2 separate regions of the Homo sapiens genome follow, and region 1 is linked to region 2. Evidence: fine-mapped expression QTL. A gene starts in region 2. The other region holds a variant in brackets. All regions are shown on one strand. Distances are from middle to middle. Region 1 overlaps C5AR1 (complement C5a receptor 1). Region 2 holds the start of MEIS3 (Meis homeobox 3).

Region 1 (8,325 bases), 100 kb after region 2:
TCTTCTTGAGGAGGGAGCTGCCGGGAGCCCACCCCCAGGAGCTGAAGGCGGCTGGGGCTCAGGTCCTTCCCCGTGACCTCGATGCCTGGGGAATCTGCACTAATGAGCACAAGTTACAGAGAGGATCTTGTCCCAGGTACCAACGTCTACTCTCAAGCAGGCACAGACACCACTCACAGCCACTTCTGCAAGCTCAAGAGACTGCAGCATCTGTCCATCGAGACACTCAGGCAATTTTTTGTTTGTTTGTTTGTTTGTTTGGAGACAGGGTCTTGCTCTGTCACCCAAGCTGGAGTGCAGCATCACAACTCACTGCAGCCTCAAACTCCTATGCTCAAGCGATCCTCCAGCCTCGGCATCCCGAGTAGCTGGGACCACAGGCACTACCAACCACACCGGCTAATTTTTTCGTTAAAAAAAAAAATTTTTTTTTTTCTGAGAGAGTCTCACTCTGTCGCCCAGGCTAGAGTGCCGAGCCACAATCATAGCTCACTGCAACCTCTGCCTCCCGGGTTCAAGTGATTCTCATGCCTTAGCTTCCTGAGTACCTGGGATTACAGACGTGCATCATCATGTCCGGCTAATTTTTGTGTTTTTAGTAGAGATGGGGTTTCGCCATGTTGGCCAAGCTGATTTCGAACTCCTGGCTTTGTGATCTGCCCAGCTCAGCCTCCCAAAGTGCTGGGATTTCAAGCATGAGCCCCCATGCTCAGACTAATTTTTTTGAAGATGGAGCCTCACTATGTTGCCCAGGCTGGCCTCCCAAAGTGCTGGGATTACAGACATAAGCCTCATTGTTCTTAATATAACATATGATTGTATTATATTATTAAGTATTTCATCTATTTCTTTTTACTTATTTAATGTGGCTACTAGAAAACAAAGATATACATGTGGCCCACATCATATTTCTGTTGGACGACATTGGGTCTGTACACTAGTTCTAAATTTAATTTTTTTTTTTTTTTTTGAGACAGAGTCTCACTCTAGGCTGGAGTGCAGTGGCATGATCTTGGCTCACTGCAACCTCCACCTCCCGGGTTCAAGCAATTCTCCTGCCTCAGCCTCCTAAGTAGCTTAGATTACAGGTGTGCACCAACACACCAGCTAATTTTGGTATTTTTAGTAGAGACGGGGTTTCACCATGTTGGCCAGGCTGGTCTCAAACTCCTGACCTCAGGTGATCTGCCTGCCTCAGCCTCCCAAAGTGCTGGGATTACAGGCATGAGCCACCACAGCTGGCTGGTCTGCACGCTATTTCTAGATAATCCATGCACATGCACACTACACAATCAAAGCAGAAATATTGTGATATGGTTTGGCTGTCTCCCCACCCAAATCTCAATTTGAATTGTATCTCTCAGAATTCCCATGTGTTGTGGGAGGGACCCAGGGGGAGATAATTGAATCATGGGGTCCGGTCTTTCCCTTGCTATTCTTGTGATAGTTAATAAGTCTCACAAGATCTGATGGGTTTCACAGTAGTTTCCACTTTTGCTTCTTCCTCATTTTCTCTTGCCACTACCATGTAAGTAGTGCCTTTGCCTCCTGCCATGACTGTGAGACCTCCCCAGCAATGTGGAACTGTAAGTCCAATTAAATCTCTTTTTTCTTCCCAGTCTTGGGTATGTCTTTATCAGCAGTGTGAAAATCGACTAATACCTACTGCAAAGTCAATTATTCACTAGAAATAACACAACATTTCAATATTCATTTTTATTTTCCTCATTAAAGTCATGTATACTTTTTTTTTAAGCTCAAAACAGGTTACATACTATATGATTCCATTGAATAACATTCTTGAAATGACAACATTATAGAAATGGAGAGTGGATTCCTGGTTGCCAGGGGTTAGGGACACGGCTGGGGTGTGGGGGTGGAGGGAAGTGGGCATCCTGGGGATCCCTGTGGTGATGAGAATGTCCTGTATCTTCACTGTATCAATGTCAATATCCTGGTTATGAGACTACATTGTAGTTTTGCAAGATGTTGCCATTGGGGGAGGCTGGGTGAAGGGTACACAAGATCCCTCTGTATCATTACTTACAATTGTGTTGAGTTTGCAATGATCTCAAAATAGAAAGCATAATTTAAAAACAAAGTACAAACAAAACTGCAGGTTTTTTAGGTGTTTTTGTTTTTGTTTTTGCTTTGCTTTTGAGACAGAGCCTCCCTCGGTCACCCAGGCTAGAGTGCAGTGGTGCGATCATGGCTCACCACAACCTCCACCTCCAAGTTCGAGCAATTCTCCCACCTCAGCCTCCCAAGTAGCTGGGATTACAGGCACCCACTACCATGCCCAGTTAATTTTTTGTATTTTTAGTACAGACGGGGTTTCACCATGCTGGCCAGCCTGGTCTGGAACTCTTGACCTCAGGTGATCCACCCACCTTAGCCTCCCAAAGTTCTGGGATTACAGGCGTGAGCCACTGCTCTCAGCCTAATTTTCTTTTTTAAATTAACTCACTTACAAGAGCTTAGATAACTCCATGGACTTCTGTTTTGTCCCAAAGAACTTTTGAGATTCCAGTTACATATTTTCCAACTTGCCATAAAATAAATACATTTTTTTTAAGCGAGAATCTTTCTACTTGTCTGTATTCTGAGTTCCCTGTTCACACCTATTGCCATATGGAAATATCCCAGATACACGGGTTTCTGTTTGTTTTTCAAAAGCCTGGGATGGAAAGATGGTGTGTGTGGGGGGGGTGGGGGGTGGGAGGGTGCTCCCTAGAAGGAAGTGTTCACCTTGCAAATGAGGAAGGATGAGAAGAGTCCCGCTGGAAAAGGAGGGACAAGTCTGGGAAAGACAGGCAACATGGAGGAGAGTTAGTTAGCTAAGGTAACACCATCCCACGAAAAGTGAAGTGAAAACAAGAGGGAGAATGGCCGGGAAGGAAGGGGACATCGGGCCACAGTGGCCCATGAGGCTGTCGCCTACACTGCCTGGGTCTTCTGGGCCATAGTGTCCACTGTGGAGCGCGTGAATGACTTGCTCTCCCTAACCACGGACTCTTCAGTCAACACGTTCCGGAGGAGGCTGGGGAGGGATTTCCGCAGTCGGCCCTGGAAGCCCTGGCCGGCCACCACGTAGATGATGGGGTTGATGCAGCAGTTGATGTAGGCAAAGGAGACACACAGGGAGTCCAGCTTCTTCAGCAGCAGGAAGGTGGGTGACGATGGCTCCAGGAAGGACATCATTATCCCCGTCACCTGGTAGGGCAACCAGAAGATAAAGAAACTGGCCACCACTGCCACCACCACCTTGAGTGTCTTGGTGGACCGCGTGGCCCTGCGGCTCCACGTCCGGAGCAGGATGAAAGTGTAACAAATCGTGAGCGTGAGTAGAGGCCACAGGAAGCCCAGGACCAGCCGGACGATGGCCACGGCTCGCTCCCGCCGTTTGTCGTGGCTGTAGTCCACGCCACACAACACCTTTGGTGGAAAGTACTCCTCCCGGACCACCCGGTACAGGAAGGAGGGTATGGTCAGCAGCAGGGCTAAACCCCAAGCCACGGCACAGGCGATCCAGGCCAAGCCAGCCCCTCGGAAGTTCTGGCACCAGATGGGTTTAAACACCAGCAGAAAGCGGTCGGCGCTGATGGTGGCCAGGAGCAGGATGCTGGCGTACATGTTGAGCAGGATGAGGGAGGGCAGGATGCTGCAGGCGGCCCCGCCAAAGGGCCAGTGGTGATGCTGTACAATGGACGTGAACAAGATGGGCAGCGCCAGGCAGGAGAGGAAGTCGGCTACCGCCAAGTTGAGGAACCAGATGGCATTGATGGTCCGCTTGGCCTCGAATGCCGTCACCCAGACCACCAGGGCATTGCCCAGCACTCCCACCAGGAAGACGACTGCAAAGATGACCAAGGCCAGGATGTCTGGAACACGCAGCGTGTTAGAAGTTTTATCCACAGGGGTGTTGAGGTCCAGGGTATCCTTGTCATCATAGTGCCCATAATCAGGGGTGGTATAATTGAAGGAGTCCTAAGGGGAATCGGAGAGAGCAGAGAGGATGAGTCTGCAGACATGTGCCCGGGTAGGGGGCATCCTGGCTCAGGCATGTGGCTTTTCCCCTGTGTGGCTTTTTCTCACTAGGAAATGGGGATGCTGAGGGCTGAGAGTCAACTAGGGTGTCACACCACTTATTAAAATATTGAGGCAGATGC[C/T]GTAGCTCACGCCTGTCATCCCAGCACTTTGGGAGGCCGAGGCGGGCGGACTGCTTGAGCCCAGGAGTTTGAGAATAGCCTGGGCAACATGGCAAAACCCCGTCTCTACTGAAAATACAAAAATTAGCCAGGCGTGGTTGCACTTGCCTGTAGTCCCAGCTACTCCGGAGGCTGAGGTAGGAGGATCACCTGACCCCAGGAGGCAGAGGTTAGAGTGAGCCGAGATCATACCATTGCACTCCAGCTTAGGTGACAGAGTGAGACCCTGTCTCAAAAAAAAAAAAAAAAAAAAAATGAAATGATTCCATGCTAGTTGGACCCCTTGCCAGTCTGCCACCTCTCCCCTCAGTCCCATCCTGCGAAGCCCCTGGGCTTCCCCACGATCCAGCAGCCTAACGTCAAAGTCTAGCCCTACTGGCCGGGCACGGTGGCTCACACCTGTAATCCAGCACTTTGGGAGGCCGAGGTGGGTGGATCACGAGGTCAGGAGTTGAAGATCAGCCTGACCAATGTAGTGAAACCCCGCCTCTACTAAAAATACAAAAATTAGCCAGGCGTGGTAGTGGGCGCCTGTAATCCCAGCTACTTGGGAGGCTGAGGCAGAAGACTTGCTTGAACCCAGGAGGCAGAGGTTGCAGTGAGCCGAAACAGCCCCATTGCACTCCAGCCTGGGTAACAGAGTGAGACTCCATCTAAAAAAAAAAAAAAAAAAAAAAATAGAACAAAAAGGTCCTGATCACTTCTTCCCAGACAGAGCTGAAGGAAGCTGTCATGCACCCAAGAAAGAAAGGCTGCAGTCCATGGCAGCTGGACTGGAGAAAGCCTTGTAGGTGAAATCTGTGTCCAGAGGCACCAGACACTGCAGTAAAGCACCCATCAGGGCACTGAGTGATCACCCGAAAGCAGCCAGTACTTACTGAGCACCTACTATGCATGCGGCATGGAATTTGCTCTTTCCATCCTGACCACAACCTACAAGGAGGTTCTGTTAATATGCCCATTTCAGGCCAGGTGTGGTGGTGCACACCTATAACCCAAGCACTTTGGGAAGCCAAGGTGGGCAGATCACCTGAGGTCAGGGGTTCGAGACCAGCCTGGCCAACATGGTGAAACCCCGTCTCTACTAAAAATACAAAAATTAGCCAGGCGTGGTGGCGGGCACCTGTAATCCCAGCTACTCGGGAGGCTGAGGCAGGAGAATCACTTGAACCTGGGAGGTGGAAGTTGCAATGAGCTGAGATAGCGACACTGCACTCCAGCCTGGGCGACAGAGTGAGACTCCACCTCAAAAAAAAAAAAGAAAGAAAAAAAAATGCCCATTTCGCTGATGAAGAAGCACGAGGCACCAGAAGGTGAAGTAGGCTGTTCCAGGTCACTCAGAGAGGATGTGAACCCATACGGGCTGGAATGCAAACCAGACAGGCTGCCCCTGACCATTTCCAAGAGGTGAGTTTTGTGACCTATGGAGCTAGCCCAGTCCTGAAGGCCACTTTGACACCAACCCAGAGAAAAGGGGACAGCAAGAAATAGAAATCATTCTGGAAATACTGAGAGCTGTATTTGCAGCTCTAAATATTTGAATTTGCAGATGGAGTTTTGTACATTTTTTTTTTTTTTTTGAGATGGAGTCTCACTCTGTCGCCACGCTGGACTGCAGTGGCACGATCTCGGGTCACTGCAACCTCTGCCTCCCAGGTTCAAGCGATTCTCCTGCCTCAGCCTCCTGAGTAGCTGGGACTAAAGGCACCTGCCACCACACCCTGCTAATTTTTGTATTTTTAGTAGAGACAGGGTTCCACCATGTTGGTCAGGCTGGTCTCGAACTCCTGACCTCGTGATCTGCCTGCCTTGGCCTCCCAAAATGCTGGGATTACAGGCATGAGCCACCACACCCGGCCTGGTTTTTCTACCTTTAAAACACTCACCTCAAAGATTAAATAAGATGAAAAATGCCTAAGCACCTAGCACAGCGCCTGACACAGAGAAGAGGACAAGAAGTGGCAGCCATTGGTATTATTATTTGTCAGTTATTGAAGAGCTCAGATCCACATCCCTGAACCACTATATATATATATATATTTTTTTTTTTTTGAGACTGAGTCTCACTCTGTCACCCAGGCTGTAGCTCAGGGGTGTGATCTTGGCTCACTGCAGCCTTGACTTCTCAGGCTCAAGTGATCCTCTTGCCTCAGCCTCCCAAGCAGCTGGGACTACAGGTGCATACTACTGTGCCCAGCTAATTTTTAATGTTTTTTTAAAGAGGAGGGTCTCACTGTATTGCCCAGGCTGGTCTCGAACTCCTGGGTTCAAGCAATCCTCCGGCCTTGGTCTCCCAAAGTGCTGGGATTACAGGCATGAACCACCACGCCCAGCCCCGTTTTATATTTTTTTTTTTTTTTTTTTTTTGAGACGGGGTCTTGATCTGTCACCCAGGCTTATGTGCAGTGGTGCAATCATGGATCACTGTCACCCCAGCCCCTCTGGCTCAAGCAATCCTCCTGCCTCAGCCTCTTGAGTAGCTAGGACTACAATTGTGCACCACCACACCCAGCTAATTTTTGTATTTTTTTTCTTTTTTTTTTTTGGTAGAGATGGGTCTCGCTTTGTTGCACAGGCTGGTCTCAAACTCCTAACTTCAAGCAACCCTCCTGCCTTGAACTCCCAAAGTGCTGAGATTACAGATGTAAGCCACCATGCCTGGATAGTTTTGTTTTTTTTTTTCTAGTTCCCTTACATTGCACCTGCCCAAGGTTAGCCAGGCTATGGGCAGTGGGCATTTACTGGTGGAATCATATCCATGAGTAAATTATTGAAAGATAAGATGTCAGTATCTGCTAATGAGTGAATGAAAAAGGTGGGGTTTAGCCACGTGGTGGAATATTACTCAGCTATGAAAAGGAAGTGCTGACACATGCTGCAATGTGGATGAATCTTGAAAACATGATGCTAAGTGAAAGAAGCCAGTCACAAAAGGCCATTAAAAATACAAAAATTAGCCAGAGTGTTGGCGCGCACCTGTAATCCCAGCTACTCCAGAGACTGAGGCAGGAGAATCACTTGAACCTGGGAGGCGGAGGTTGCAGTAAGCTGAGATCATGCCAATGCACTCCAGCCTTGACTGAGCAAGACTCTGTCTCAAAAAAAAAAAAAGGTGATAGAAAGATGGATGGATATAAATAAACGGATGGATAGATAACGAATGGGTGAATGAGTGGATGCATGGATGATGGACAGATAGATGACTGATGGACAGACAATGGATACATGGAGATATGATTGAGAGATAGATGATAGATAGATAGATGATAGATACATAGATAATGGGCTGGGCATGGTGGCTCATGCCTGTAATCACTTGAGGCCAGAAGATCAAGACCAGCCTGGCCAACATAGTGAAACCCCATCTCCACTAAAAGTACAAAAAAATTAGCTGGGCCCAGTGGTGTGTGCCTGTAGTCCCAGCTACTTGGGAGGCTGAGGCAGGAGAATCGCTTGAACCTGGGAGGTGGAGGTTGCAGTGAGTCAAGATTGCGCCACTGCCCTCCAGCCTGGGCAACAGAACAAGACTCTGTCTAAAAAAAAAAAATAGCTAGATAACGGATGGATGGATGGATGGATGGATGGATGAATCGATGGACAGATGGATGGATGGATGGATGGATAATGGAGAGACAGATACAGTAAATTTGGAGAGTCTAGGTAAAATGTATATGTATATGAGCCTGTTCCATTCTTGTCATTTTTCCGTAAGTTTGAAAATATTTCCAAATAGAAGGTTAACATTTTTAAAAATATTTTCACTGGTAAACAGCCCCTGCCCTCAGCCACCCACTTCTTCTATTGCCCGCTCCCAGCACCCTAAGTTCCTGTTTCCTACTCTGGGACACCCCCACTCCAGGTCGCCATGTTCATGTCACTAAAGAGTTAATGCTAGGTGCAGCAGGAGGCCCTAGACCCTGCCCAGGGGACCTCTGCACTTTAGCACATTGTTAAATATTTTGAATGTTCCCTTTGGCTGTGACGCATGAAGGTAAATTTTGCCTCTGCTGGTTTCGCAAGCTCCCAGCAATCCTTGACTGCAGAATGACTCAGACCCTCGTAAGGGGAGCCTCCCCACCCTCTGCTCTGACATCGCCTTGTCACTCCCTCATCAGCT
Region 2 (8,325 bases):
CTCGCCACCTTTGCCTCCCGTTCCCTGCCTGCTCCCTGCAATTCTCTCCCTGGGGAAGTGCGGGGAAGGGAATGTCATGGGTGGTGGATTGAAAGGGGTAGGTGGGGTCAGTAGAGGGGGAACACAGACGGTGGAGGAGGTGGAGAAGGGACACAAAAAGAGGAGGGGAAGTTGGAGAGGGAGCAGAGAGCCAAGAACAAAACACAGGGGCCGGAGAGGCAGCAGAGACAGAGATACAGACAGGATGCAGAGAAGATGCAGACGGAGGAAGCCCAGAGACTCAGAACACAGCACCAGGGAGGAGAGCGAGGTGGGGAGCGGGGCGGGGCGGGCGTCCCAGGGCGCCAGGGCAAGACCCTCACCCCATTCCCAGCACACAAAGCCAGTGAGGCCAACGCCGAGGGTACTCTCAGAGACCAGAGATTTAAAAGGCACGGCTGGGCCGACAGAGCCCATGGCAGACAGAGGGACATGGAGAGACAGGGAGAGAGACACACAGAGACAGAGGGAGAGACAGAGAGAGATGGAGAGACAGAGAGAGATGGAGAGACAGAGAGAGAGGGAGGGACAGAGAGAGAAATGGAGAGACAGAGAGAGACAGAGACAGAGAGAAATGGAGAGACAGAGAGATGGTGAGACAGACAGAAATGGAGAGACAGACCCCAAGAGGGAGAGACAGAGAGAGATGGAGAGAGAGGGAGAGACAGAGAGAGAGGGAGAGAGAGGGAGAGACAGAAAGAGAGAGACAGAGAGAAATGGAGAGACAGAGAGGGAGAGATAGAGATGAAGAGACAGAGAAGGAGAGACACAGAGAGAAATGGAGAGACAGAGAGCAAGAGGGAGAGACAGATGGAGAGAGAGGTAGAGACAGAGAGATGGAGAGACAGAGAAAGAAATGGAGAGACAGAGAGGGAGAGACAGAGATGAAGAGACAGAGAGAGAAGGAGAGACAGAGAGAGATAGAGAGACAGAGATGGAGAGACAGAGAGAGATGGAGAGACAGAGAGATGGAGAGACAGAGAGAGAGGGAGAGACAGAGATGGAGAGACAGAGAGAGAGGGAGCAACAGAGAGATGAAGAGACACAGAGAGGGAGAGACAGAGGGAGAGACAGAGTGGAGAGACAGAGAGAGAGATGGAGAGGCAGAGAGGGAGAGACAGAGAGAGATGAGAGACAGAGAGGGAGAGACAGACGGGCAGAGACAGAGAGATACAGTTATAGAGAGACACAGAGACAGAGTCAGAACTGGAAAGAGACTCAGTAAGAGAGAGACAGAGACAGAAGGAGAGAAGGAGAGAGGGTGAGGAAAAGGAGGATGAGGAGGAGGACGGACCGGAGACAGGACCCAGAGGCACAGCGAGAAACTGGCAGAGGAAAGCAGATTCCAACAAAAAAGACGGAGAGGGCGAGGAGAGATAGAAAGGGAAGGAAAAGAGGGAGAGAGGGGTCTCGGTGGGAGCCGCAGCCTGTGCCCCGCCCCCCGCCCGGGTCAGGCCGGGTCCTTCCCGCCACCGCTGAGCCGTGGCTAATGGTATGATTGCTTGGTGGGGCGGGAGGGGAAGGGGGCGGCAGGCATTTGTCAGGGCCGGTGACGAATGAGCCACAGGAGTCTGGGCTCGGGTGATGGATGGCGTGGCCAGCGGGCGGAGGGGCGGGCGCAGGGGTGGGCGCCCCCACCAAGATAAATGTTTCCTTCTCCTGGAGCTGGGCCAGGCAGCGGGAGGACGGGAAGGGGGCGATGTATTTATGAAGGGCCCGGGTGGAGGAGAGGGGAGAGAGCCAGGGAGACAGAAGCCCAGGGAGGATACGGTGGGGGGGACAGGGAGGCGGAGAGAGGGAGAGGAAGGAGGGAGAAGAGACAGAGGCCCCTGGAGAGAGAGACCGAGAAAGATGGAGAGAAAGAGAGATAAGAAAGATGAGGCAGAGAAGACATCCAGACAAAGAGACACAGAGATACAAGAAAAAAAAAAAAAGCCAGGAGACAGACAGACAGACACAGCCCAGGTGACAGACAGACAGACATAGCCCAGGCGGAGATGGAGACAGAGACGGCCTGTCTTTTAGGGTCCCTTCTTCCCCCACCCTCCTGAGCAGAGACACAGATTCTCAGAGAGAGCCTGGAATGAGGAGGAGGAAGCAAACCTGGGCCCCCAGAAGGAGAGAGACAGACACAGAGCGGTTGATAAAGAGGGGAAACCGAGGCAGGAGGCTAGCAGGCCCGAGAGAGAGGACAGGAGGAACCCAAGGTGGATCCTCGTTCATTCGGTCTGCTCCTGTAGGCTTTCAGAGGGGATCCTGGGGACCACTGCGGATCCCCGGGGGACGTGGCTGCCTGGTGGGCATAGCCCCAGTGGTCGGTGCTCAGGTTGGGGCACTGAAGGGCCAGTCCGCTGAGAGATCGCCCAGCCCGTGCTGGGGAGACCCATGAGGTCCCCCAGATCTACTCATAGAGGGCTCCACGCTTCCCGTCTGTAAAACAGGTGCAGGACAGGGCTAGAGGGCGGAGACCCCTGCAGACTGGGAGCTGGGGTCACTCTGATGCCACCCAGGGAGCCACTCAGCCGGGCAGGGAAGACGCTTCCAGACACTGTCACAGGGAGGCCCAAGCACACCCTCGAAGAGCCGACAGGCAGCCGCGACGCAGTGACACAGGCACCCCCGCTCCAGCACCAGGCCTGGCCGCCACCTGCTCCCTCCCCCTGGGAACAGAAGGGTCCCAGGACTATTTAAGGGAGACAGCCAGGAAGAGAGAGAGAGAGAGAGAGAGAGAGAGAGAGAGTGTGTGTGTGTGTGTGTGTGTGTGTGTGTGAGAGAGAGAGAGAGAGAGCGAGAGACAGAGACGGACAGACAGACGGATGGACAGACAGAGGGAAAGACTGGAGGAAGAGCCTCAGAAAGCCGGAGCCTCCCCCCTGCTCCCTCCGTCCCCCGCCGGCATCCTCCATCCTCCCCCAATCAATTTCTCTCCCACACACTTATTTCTCCCTTCCCAACAGCTCGTCTCTTTCTTTAATTAGAAAGATTTATGCTTCAGAGTCCAAGCCCCCTGCTCTTGTTTTGGGGGTGGCAGGGACGACTCCAGGGTCTCTATTGGAGCTCCTGTCCCCCACTCCCTCCCCCTCCTGTCTGTCTCACTCTGTCTGCACCTCTCTCTCTCTCTCCTCCCACCCGCGTCTGTCTCTGTCTCTCTCTCTCTCTGAATCACACCGTCACTGGAGTTACCTCCCTCCCCACTCCAGTTAGGCCCCATCCCCATCCCAGGTGCCCCCTCCCTCCCTTCCTGCTCTGTCCACGCCCCCCACCACTGGCCGTCAGATGAGGCCGCACTTGCTCCTCTAGGTTTCAGAATCAGCCTGGGCTAAGGGGACCTTAGCATGCACCACCCCCCAAAAAAGCAAATAGAGCCAGAGACTCCTAACCCTTGCATCCCTCACCCCAAGTCTTGGCTGAGGGTGAGGTGGGGGTGGAGCAGACCAAAGGGCCTTGTGTCTTTAATTAAAAAGTGATTTAAATTAATTTTCTGCTCCAAAACCCCTATCTGGGGTGCGCCGGCCTTGAGGAAAGGCAAGGCCTCCAGACCCTTCCCCTCGGACTGCCTTAAACGGCCAGCCTCACCGCAGGACAGCCACGGGGGCAGAGCCCGCCGGCATGGGGACCCCCAGACTCAGCCAAGACCCTGAGTCCTGGCACCCTCTAGCTTAACTGTTTCTCCGTTATCCACAGCCCACCCCCGCCGCCCCCAGCGCACTGCCCATCCTGCAGAGGGGGAATCGAGCCTCAGAGAGGGGAGAGCCTACGGTGGGACCAGACTCCAGATTCCCACGTGACCCCTGGAGATGGCCAGGGAGGGGGTCCGTGGTGTGTCCAGGGGGCTCGGAGAACAGAGAGCCAGAGGAGAGAAAGGACGGGAGAAGCGGAGACAGAGAGAGACAAGGAGAGAGAGACTGGGAAAGAGGGAGACTGAGAAACCCGGAGCAGGAACCCCAGCCCTGGGTAGGAGAGGAGGGGCCTGGGGGCACCAGGGCCGCGGTCTCTTCCTCTCCTCCCCCCACAGCCTGCCCCTCCCCGACTCCCACCGGAAGTGCTGCTGCTGCCCTAACCCCAATCCCTCGTGCTGTAGCTCTGCAGGCTCACTCTGGCTCATCCCCTATCCCGCTCCTTGGTGGTTCTGTTTAATTTCCACAAGACAAGGGAGAGACCGGGAACGGGGAGCGCGGCTGCCAGCACCCCTGAGCCGCCGCCGGACCCTCCGTCGCCCCGGGCCGCCCCCCGCCCCCTGCGGTCCCCGGTGTGTCCGTCTCGGGACGGTTCGATTCCCTCCAGAGCCGGGGAAGGGACGGGGGGGGCCCAGAGGAGGGGGCCTCGGGCGCCCCGCCTGCGCCTGCTGCCCCCGCCCCGGCGGCGATGCGCTCCTGGCCGTGACCCCCGCTGGGGGCGGGGGCCGGGGTCCATGCGCGGAGTCCCCACCCGGCCCGGCGCCTGCCGCTGACGGCGGCGGGGGTGGGGGGGCGCGCGCCTGGCCTCCTGCCCACCCCCTGGCGTCAACACCGCGGGCCGTCAGGGGCTGCGGCCCCGGGCTGCGCCCTCCCCCGCGGCCAGGCTCTGGAGGGACCCAGGAGCTGCCGCCGGCCTCAGCCCATGGCCCGGAGGGTAGGTCTCGGGGCGGGGACCCCGCGTCCCGGCCGCTTCCGCACCCCCTGTCCCTGCATCCCCCACTCTCCGGCGCTGGCCCCCATTAGCCCATCCGTCCTCTACACCACCTCGCTCTCTCTCTGCCCCTCCCTCCGCCCCTGGGTCTCCCAGTCCCTGTGTGCCCCCTCTCTGCCCCCAAGTGTCTCTTCCTGGCCCTCGGCCTCGCCTCCTCCCCATCGTTTAGCTTCTCCTTCTCCCTGCCCCTCTGTCCCCCTCTGTCTGCCCCACTCTCCTCCTCCTTTCTGCCTCTCTGTCCCCCTCTCTCTGTCCCTGGTCTCCCCCCTCTTTCTGCCTCTCTATCCCCCTCTCTCTGCCCTCCCCCACCCGCAGTCTCTCTCCTCTGTTCCTGGGCTTCCTCCTCCATCTCAGCCGCCCGCACCTCACCGTCCCCCCTTTTTTCTGCTCTCCTCCGTCCTTCCCTTCGCTCTACTTTTGTTCCAAGCCGCCCCTGCCTCTCCAGGGCTAGGAGTGGGACAGGGGTGGGAGAGGTGGTCTCACCAGGCTGCTGGCCCCACGGAGCCTGTCTCCCTGGGGATGGGAACGGGGATAGAAGACAGGGGAGGAGGCGCGCGCCCGTTTTGGGGGTTCCGGGTAGGCTGTGAGGACCGCTTTTGGTGAGAGTGCCTTGAGCAGCGGGGAGCAGTTGGATTCAACTTCAGGGCACAGGAGAAGTTAGGAGAAGAGGGAGAGGGAAAGAGTGGGACACACAGAACCAGGGTGCCCAGCCAGGCGAGGGTCCGAGGCAGGAACGTTCTAGCCTCTTCCCGTGCGAGTCCTGCTGCCTCTTTGAGCCTCCGTGTCTTCATCACTGAGGAAGGGATTTGACCTGATGAGAGGAAGGTGCCCCTGGCTTCCCAGGTGCATGGTTCTGTGACGACAGGACGCGGTCGTCCTACCCCATAATGGTGTTTCTCTTGGGTGCGCAATCGTGTCTGTATGGTGGTGCGGAGTGACCCTCTCCGGCAACAAGTGCTCACAGCATGAGCCAGGCCCTGTGCTAAATGCCTCATTCATTCATTCATCCATGTGCCAAATGTCTCAATCATGCATTCATTCTTGTGCCTGGTGTTGGGCTGTGTGCATGTGTGTGTGCATGTGTGTGTGGGGGGGGGGATTTGGGTGTGACTGACACATGAGTGTGCACGTGGGTTGGTGTGTATGGCTGTGTCTACATGTGTGGTAGATTCACGTGGCGAGTGGAGTGTGACATGTTGTTGAGACTTACTCTGATGCGCTTATCTGCCAACTGTGAAATGAAATAGAAGACAGGGAGGCTTCGTATGTGTACTTTGTGTACAACAATGCGCGGTTCCTACAGGAGGTGTCCATGGATCTCCCTCTCTGTCTGTCTCTCTCTCTGTCTCTGTCACTGTCTTCTCACGCCACTTTCTCCATCTCTTTTCCCTCCCAGCCAGACCCTGCCGTCTCTCCCTCTGGGTCCTCCTGCCCACATGTCAGGAATCTCTGCCTGGACGGGGTCCTCACTCCCCACCGAGGCAGCTCCAGGGGACCTGGAGGGCTTCAAGCTTGGGGGCTCAGACACCTGGGGACCACAGGCAGGTTTCTGGGACACAGAAGGGCATCTCCTGGGTTCCAGGATAGAGAAGCTCCTCAGCCGAGTCTCGGGGTGCTGACCCCTCCCTGGGGCTCCGCCCTTCTCTTCTCACCTTCCCCCAGTATGATGAGCTGCCGCACTACCCAGGCATCGTGGATGGCCCCGCAGCCCTGGCTAGCTTCCCAGAGACAGTGCCCGCAGTACCAGGGCCCTATGGCCCGCACCGGCCTCCCCAGCCCCTGCCCCCAGGCTTGGACAGCGACGGCCTGAAGAGGGAGAAGGATGAGATCTATGGGTGAGTGGGGCCGGGTCTCAGGCTCCTGTCTCTCTCTCTCTGTCTTTCTGCTTCTTTGCTCCCTGGGTCTGCTTCTGTCTCTCTCTGTGTACGAGTCTCTGTCTCCTTCCCTCTCTGGGTCTCTTGTCCCCTCCCCAGCTGTTCTGCATCTTGGCAGCCCCTCCATCCACCTCCCAGCCTCTCCCTCAACCTCTCTCCTTTCCTGCCTCCCCAGACACCCGCTCTTCCCCCTCTTGGCCCTGGTCTTTGAGAAATGTGAACTGGCTACATGCTCTCCCCGTGACGGGGCCGGAGCTGGGCTGGGGACACCCCCTGGAGGTGACGTCTGCTCCTCTGATTCCTTCAACGAGGACATCGCTGCCTTTGCCAAGCAGGTGGGCACCTCCCACCCACCACACACCGAGTCAGAGAGCCAGCGAGGAGGGGTGGGTGGAAGGCGGGACATCCCCCTGCCGGCCTCTCTCTTCCCTCCCAGGTTCGCTCTGAGAGGCCCCTCTTCTCCTCCAACCCAGAACTGGACAATCTGGTGAGACCCGAGCCCTCCCCCACACCCCCTCCTCCAATGGGTCTCCTTCCCTGACGCCCCATCCCTGGGGTTGGTGGGGGGGGTGCAGAGAGAAGGCCACCTGGTCCATGTCCCCAAACCGTCATGATTGTTGCCCACGTGCCGTGTGGTACAGCCTAGAGTCTGAGAACGGGACCCATGGCCCGAGTTCAAATCCCAGCTCTGCCACTCACCAGCTCTGTGACCCAGGGCAAGTCACTCTGCATCTCCGTGCCTTGGTGTCCCGTCTGTGAAGTGTGGCTGGTAGTAATGTCTGTCTTGGAGGGCTGCTGTGGGGGTTTAATGAGTGAATGCGATTCAAGTGCGTGGAACAGCACCTGGCACAGAATAGGGCTCAAAAAGTGTCTGATGTTCCATCCGTCAGAAGATCAGCACCTATGCCAAAGTGAGCGCAGGGACTGCTGCCCAAGGAGAGGAGGCTGGGTGCGGCAGCTCACGCCTGTAATGCCAGCACTTTGGGAGGCCAAGGCCAGGAGATAGCTTGAGGCCAGGGATCGAGACCAGCCTGGGCAACGTAGCGAGACCCCACCTCTACAAAAACATTTAATTAGCGGGGTGTGGTGGCATGCACCTGTGGTCTCAGCTACTTTGGAGGCTGAGGCGGGAGGATCGCTTGAGCCCCAAGAGGTCGAGGCTGTAGTGACCCTTGATCAGCTCCACTGCATACCAGCCCAGGCAACAGGGCAAGACCCTGTCTCTCATAGAGAGCTAGAGAAAGAGAAAGAAAGAAAGAAAAAGAGGGCCGGGTGCGGTGGCTCATGCTTGTAATCCCAGCACTTTGGGAGGCTGAGGCAAGCAGATCACCTGAGGTCAGGAGTTCGAGACCAGCCTGACCAAATGATGAAACCCTGTCTCTACTAAAAATACAAAAATTAGCTGGGCACAGTGGTGCACGCCTGTAGTCCCAGCTACTCAGGAGGCTGAGGCAGGAGAATCGCTTGAACCTGGGAGGCAGAGGTTGCAGTGAGCCAAGATCACACCACTGCATTCCAGCCTGGGCAACAGAGCAAGACTCCATATCAAAAAAAAAAAAAAAAAAGAGAGAGAGAGAGAAGAAAGGAGGGAGGAATACCCAGCTTCTCCCATCCTTTGCTCCCCAAGCTCTTGCCAGGGCTTCCTATTGGCCAAACCCTTTGGCAAGTGTTCTGGGAAATGTAGCTTGCAGGTGGGTGGGGCCTGGAGCTGGGGGCCAACAGGCAGAGGATGGGAATGCCAGTC

What was found. PIP is the estimated chance that this variant, and not a neighbour inherited with it, causes the effect.
Region 1: its variant is fine-mapped to the expression of MEIS3 in whole blood (TOPMed, PIP 0.93).

What each region holds. Positions count from the first base shown.
Region 1 is chr19:47,315,443-47,323,767 of GRCh38, reverse strand. C5AR1 (complement C5a receptor 1) reads right to left here. Exons shown (of 2, transcript NM_001736.4): 2 at 1,702-3,987. The coding sequence ends at 2,938. Among named protein-coding and RNA genes, the nearest start is that of C5AR1, 9.7 kb to the right of the region's middle. RefSeq lists an enhancer at 8,102-8,325. The variant C/T (reference allele first, on the strand shown) is at 4,170.
Region 2 is chr19:47,415,395-47,423,719 of GRCh38, reverse strand. It overlaps MEIS3 (Meis homeobox 3), which reads left to right and starts at 4,193. Exons shown (of 13, transcript NM_001301059.2): 1 at 4,193-4,650; 2 at 6,370-6,542; 3 at 6,757-6,916; 4 at 7,018-7,068. The coding sequence starts at 4,639. RefSeq lists enhancers at 4,113-5,106, 5,107-6,099.